Regions from separate parts of the Homo sapiens genome. Here region 2 is linked to region 1. The links come from fine-mapping of genetic effects on gene expression. A gene starts in region 1. The other region holds a variant in brackets. All regions are shown on one strand. Distances are from middle to middle. Region 1 holds the start of TBPL1 (TATA-box binding protein like 1). Region 2 overlaps SLC2A12 (solute carrier family 2 member 12).

Region 1 (2,915 bases):
GGCAGAGGGTACGTAAAGAGGAGGCTGGGGAAAGGATGACACCTTTTTGCTTAGGAGAAGTCAGGTTTAACAAAAGGGGTGGGGAACAAACAGAAGCTGTGGTTGACCTAATTGCTCCTATGATTTATCAATTTTATTTTCATCTTTAATCTTCAACTTTACATAAAGAACTTTGTATGTATATGTGGCCTTTTCATTGTGCTACAGGAAAACCTCATTTACTCACCCAAAATGATTTTGTAAAGTATAAAACCATTAAGCAGCTTGTGATGTAAGACTAAAGAGGTAACATAAACTGATATTTCACTGGGCATACCAAACTGTGAATAATCCTTTCAACCAGATAGTGCTAACAGTCACTTCTCAATAGGAAGGAACTGCCATTTTCTCAAAGAGACTGCGAAATTATGCCAGGATGGCTGAACCTTCTTATGTCTCTTTTTATATTTTCCCAGAGAATCCACATTGCTTACACACACACACGCAAACCTGCTCCCTTTTCTTAAGTCACAGTTTTAAGGCACTGTTCTAAACCCTAAATACAGAAGCTCATGCACTTACTGCCAGTGTCGCTTTGGAACTGCAGGTGACAGATGCAGTCAGAGAGCTCACAGATGTGGATTGACTGCAGTTTGAGTCTTATTGCAATGAGCACATTGACAGAGCCTGCAGATGCACATCTCGGCAGGAGAGATTTTCTTTTTAAGCCCTCATGCCCTATTAGATTTACTTTTAGGGCTTTTATTGGCTATTTTTATCACTTATCCCGACTCTCATCCCTGCTTAGCCCTACCCACAATTCATTTTCTCTTCTTCAGTTCTAGATCCTTCTCCATCAATCCTAATTTTGGTCAAAAATAATAATAAAATAAAGCGAGGCTGCCGGCATTGCCAGAATCAGAAACCGACGAAGCCGCTTTTTGGGAGCTATTAGAGAAGCCGCTGTAAGTTTTCTGAGAAGCAACGGACCCCTAGCATCTTTGCACGGTCCCTCTTCCCCTGGGTGATGGCTCCGAGACAGATGAGGAATCTCTTTTCCCCGTCTTTCCCAGTGGTGGCTTAAACGAAAGATAACCCTTCTTTTCTTATCCTACACCAGGCTCGGTAACGCTCCCAGGTACGGACGCCCCACCCCCAACCCGTTATCCCTAAAGAGATCCCCAAATATCGCCCGGTCCTCTTCAGAACTGAGCCCTCCCTCGGCCACCGGACCGGTTTCCCCCACCTCAGCGGCTGCCCTCCAGTCGCCCGCCCCCACACATCCCACCCCAAGTCTGGCCCGGGCTCCGCACATGCCCACCCCGCGCCCAGACGCCCCGCACCCGGTGCTCAGGCCGCTCAGCCGCCCGCGCTCCCTGTGCCCAGGGTCGCCTAGGGGGTTACCGTGGGAAGAGGGAGCGGTGGCTGAGGACGCGGCGGCAGCGCTGCTGCCGGTTGCGTCGGATGCGAAGGAGAAGCTGGAGGACAAGGATGAGGATGAGACGGGCGCGCTCCCCAGTCTCCATGGAACTCCCGCCCCGGCCCGTTGCTAGGAGCCCCCGAGGCTCGGACTCCGTCTTCCTTGCTTTGTTGTTCCGGGTGCGAGGCGGCCGCAGCTTCCCCGCGACAATAAATAGACTAGACGCTGGGGAGCATAGAGACAGTGCGCGAGGGCTAGAGCGCCGCCGGACAGGGCGCTCCTGGGTGCCTCGCTAGCCACTCATTTCCGGCTCTCACTGCTCCCGTCACTTTCCCCGTCCCCCGCCCCCACCCTTCCTTCCTCCTTCCTGGTCCCCAAATCAGGCCCCTCCTGCCCACCCGCTGGGCTCGGTGGGAGGTAAGAGGTGGGATGGGGGCGGCGCTAATGGGCATCGGACTAGACTTTTTTGTTTAAGAACCGCTTGAAAGGGTTCTGAAAACACCGTGTATCCTTTGTATATTTTTAGTTGATATCTAAACGTGTAGTAATTTCTGGCATACAGTCGAATATTTAGGTGGACTTTTTTGTCAAAACCGTAGAACTTTCTCATCAGCTCATTAAATTTATACAAAAGGTCCTCCCCACCCCCCATTATATAATTGCTAAAGCTAGTCCTTACCGTCCAGACGAGACTTGTTTTCTGCCTGAAAAAAGTCCTTCGCTTTTTCAGTCAAAATGAACCCGTTAATTTATGATGTCGCGATAAATTCCCCTAGTGAGATTCCTCACTAGGCGAATTGGAATCCTGGTCTTAGAGCGACCGGGGATGACAGATGACAGACGGAGGGAAGGAAGTGGGGAGAGATGGAGACACAAGGTGTGGCGAGACGGAGGGATAACGCAGGACCGTATGCCACTTCTGTCGCCTGTCCCACATTCCTTACTCTACGTGGGTTTGCGGTCGGGACTGTCCCTCGGGAACCGAGAGGCGGATCCAGGAAGGATGGGAGTGGGAGAGGGCGGATGCTGGCGAGGACTCAGGCAGCCCGGGATAGGAGGACCTCTAGGAACGGAGACCCTCCGCGGCTCTGCGCCCAAGTAGCCCTGCAGGGGCCGGGGGACCCCGGGGGCGCACAATGGCCCGTTTGAACCGTCGCCCTGGGGCCCGAGTGCGTCCTCGGGGTCCCTCGGGAGTGGCCTGAGAGGCGCTGCCCGCGGGAGCGAAAATCGCGTAACGGCCCTGAGGGCGCCACGCCACGCCACGCCACGCCACGCCGCGCGGAAGCCCCCGGCTCCCGGCCCCACGTTTCCCACTCTCAGGCCGGCATCGGCCTTTCCACCAGAGCTCGGCTGCAGTCAGAAGCCCCTGGCGTTAGTTGAGGTCAATGGCAGCCCTGATTTAATTATTAAAAGACCACGCCGAGCCGGGTTCATGGGTACCTGGCCTCTGATTGGTGGGAATCAGATGAAAAAAATGAAAATGCCACTGCCTTTTTAAAAGAGAAGACGTGGGCTG
Region 2 (2,915 bases), 67 kb before region 1:
ATGAACTACTAGTGTGTTTCTAGAGTAATTCAGTTCTGGGCTACCAAACGTATAAATTTAAAATCAGAAAACCTCTGTTCTAATCCCAGCTCTTCTACTTACTGGTGGTGTGACCTTTACGTGATTTTTCTTCTCTGAGCTATTTCTAATCTATGTAATGGGCATAGTAATATCTGTCCTATCTCCTAGAGTACAGGTGCACATCAGATGATCTAATGTATATGAGAGTGCTTTAGATGCTGTAAAGTATGAGAGTATGATATAATGTAAGTTACAATGTGAGAACACATCTTAGTCCTTAGCAATAGGGTATTACTTCTGTATGTTTATTTTGGTTTATTAACCAGAATGTAGTTATAGACTGTAAGCATTTTGAAGGAAGAAACATCTCATATTTTTTCTTTCTGTCCCTGTAAGTGAGCACAGCATGAGTCTGTTTAAAAATCATGCTGGTTTATTTACCTTTGTGTTTTTAAGCAGGAAGAAGGAAAAGGACTTAAAAATACGATGCAGACATAGGAAAAATGTCAAATTGGGCTTCTTTACTTGTGTAAAGATCTGGCTAGTGGGCAGGCTAGGAACTAAGTAAGCTAGAAATACTAGGCTGCCAAAAAAACTCCTGTTCCTGCCAGACACCATCACGAGGCTTTTTGCAGAACAATCCATCACTTGGGCATGATTTTTAAAAAATATCTTTCTGATTTTGGCTGTAAGAAAAGATGCAGGAGATTTAGTAGTGTTAAGAAACAATTAGCGGGAGATATTTAGGCATTTCTTTGTTAAGGCATACATAGTTATTCGAGAATTTTGGACACAATATCTAAAAGTTGTTCTGGATGCTTTTTGGATCCTCTGCTTTTTGCTACAACATGGAGAAGAGGGGCTTCGGAGAACTGCTTAGACCAGAAGCAATGCCAACGAGTTGGAGAATCTCAGGGTTGAAGGAAGTTTGGATCTAGGAAAAGGAAATACTTCTTACATCTCATGGACTGTCCAATTTACAACTGCAGGTGCAAGGACTGGCCTGGGTAATCACACGTGAGGCTTGGAGTCATGCTGTCAGAGGCAGGAATCCAAATCACATCTAAAGAGAACAGTCATTTCACATTCTTATCTTGAGGCTATGGATTCTCCTCGTGTTTTTAAAAGAGACCCAAATAATTCTCCATTTTTTTTCTTGCTAAGAGTCAATCCTTTACATCCATATTCACATTTTAGTTTCTTTTTCTTTTCTAAAGAAAATATCCTGTAGTAATTTCATTTCAATCCCCAATTGTATTCTAGAGCATTGGTATAAACTATATAAACTAGTTGGAGTTTAAAGAAGATTTTTATTAGGAACAAGCTTTTCATACCAGATCTTGAATGCATTACCAAACTTATTAAGCTGATGTGATTAGTGCTCAGGTATTTAGAGAGTTTATTGCTTGTAATACAAATAAATCCTTTGTGTAAATAGAGGTATGAAGGAAAAGTACTTGCTGTTCTAAAGTAACATTGAAAGCAAGATTAAACCATCCTTATTAGACCTTCTTAAATATGGATTGGCTTAGAACAA[C/T]ATTCCTTAATTGTGTTAGATCACAGCATGATTTTCTTCTGCCAGGAAAGTGTTTCTATTCTTAGGTTAAAGTGGATGCCCCACGTCATTTTACTTTCTGGTCCCCTGTTCCCCTAACTGTAAAATAATTGGGTTGCCCCAGAATTTAGAATCCAGGAGGGGTACTCATGTAATCTTACATACTTTTTTTTTTTTTTTTTTGAGATGGAATCTCACTCTGTTGCCCAGGCTGGAGTGCAGTGGCTCGATCTCGGCTCACTGCAATCTCCGCCTCCTGAGTCCAAGCGATTCTCCTGCCTCAGCCTCCTGAGTAGCTGGGATTACAGTTGTGCACTACCACCAGGCCTGGTTAATTTTTGTAGTTTTAGTAGAGACGGGGTTTTACCATATTGGCCAGGCTGGTCTTGAACACCTGACCTCAAGTGATCCACCTGCCTTGGCCTCCCAAAGTGCTGGAATTATAGGCATGAGCCATTGCGCCCAACATCTTATGTACTTCTAGAATGCATTTAAAATATTATTCTAAGAAGGGGTCCATAGGCTTCACCAGCCTACCGAAGAGGTTCATGGCCCCAGAGAGGCTAAGAGCCCCTCCCTTCCATTTTTCTGTAGCTAATATTAAAACCCGTATGTCAAACAAAATCAGGATATATACTTATTAAACACTCTGTTGTCCATAACTTATCTTTCACTTCAAATATGTTCAAAATCTTACCTCGACTCCCCACTGTTTCTGGGGTGCTCTTGATCATCACTTCAGCTCCCTTTAATAACAGAATTTTTCTAACATGGTTCAAGCTTTCACAACGTAGAATCACAGATTCTTGACATTGTGAAGACACAGAACAACGTGAAGATTTTTATATTCATGCTTCACAAGTAAAGTCAAGATGAGCCAAAACCCAAGGCATAATGTTATTATTTCATGAGTTCATCTGAGGTGACACTTGTGTAGAAACCCAGCCCTCCTTAAAATAGCCACTGAAACTCCGGAAAATATATGTGACTGTTTTTTTTATAATAATTATTAGGGCTTTTTATCCAAAAATTAATATGCCCATAAATTAATTAATTAACCTCTTCTTTCATCTCATGATGAATAAGTTTTCACTTTGAGCAGATGGAAGGCATGTTTCCCAAGGTCACATACGAAGTTAGGTGATAAAGCTGCGACTGTCATCCTTCAGCTACCTTTGTATTCACATATTCAAGTGACAGATGACACCAAATAACCTCCCCTGATCTCTTCTACCAACTCTGAGGACTCAAATGGGCAGAAATTCCAGCCAGAAAACATCTTGGAGTGAGGAAGAGGAGAAGATAGAGAAGTGGTAGGGATTCATTGATTCACTCACAC

What was found. PIP is the estimated chance that this variant, and not a neighbour inherited with it, causes the effect.
Region 2: its variant is the best candidate, but not a certain one, in a credible set for the expression of TBPL1 in esophagus muscle (GTEx, PIP 0.86).

The regions. Positions count from the first base shown.
Region 1 is chr6:133,951,894-133,954,808 of GRCh38, reverse strand. It overlaps TBPL1 (TATA-box binding protein like 1), which reads right to left and starts at 1,585. Exons shown (of 7, transcript NM_004865.4): 1 at 1,384-1,585. LOC128092253 (umcharacterized LOC128092253) reads right to left here and starts at 1,505. Exons shown (of 2, transcript NM_001414965.1): 1 at 1,384-1,505. The coding sequence starts at 1,505. RefSeq lists a silencer at 2,478-2,587.
Region 2 is chr6:134,018,869-134,021,783 of GRCh38, reverse strand. All of the region lies in intron 2 of SLC2A12 (solute carrier family 2 member 12), which reads left to right. Among named protein-coding and RNA genes, the nearest start is that of SLC2A12, 32 kb to the left of the region's middle. The variant C/T (reference allele first, on the strand shown) is at 1,559.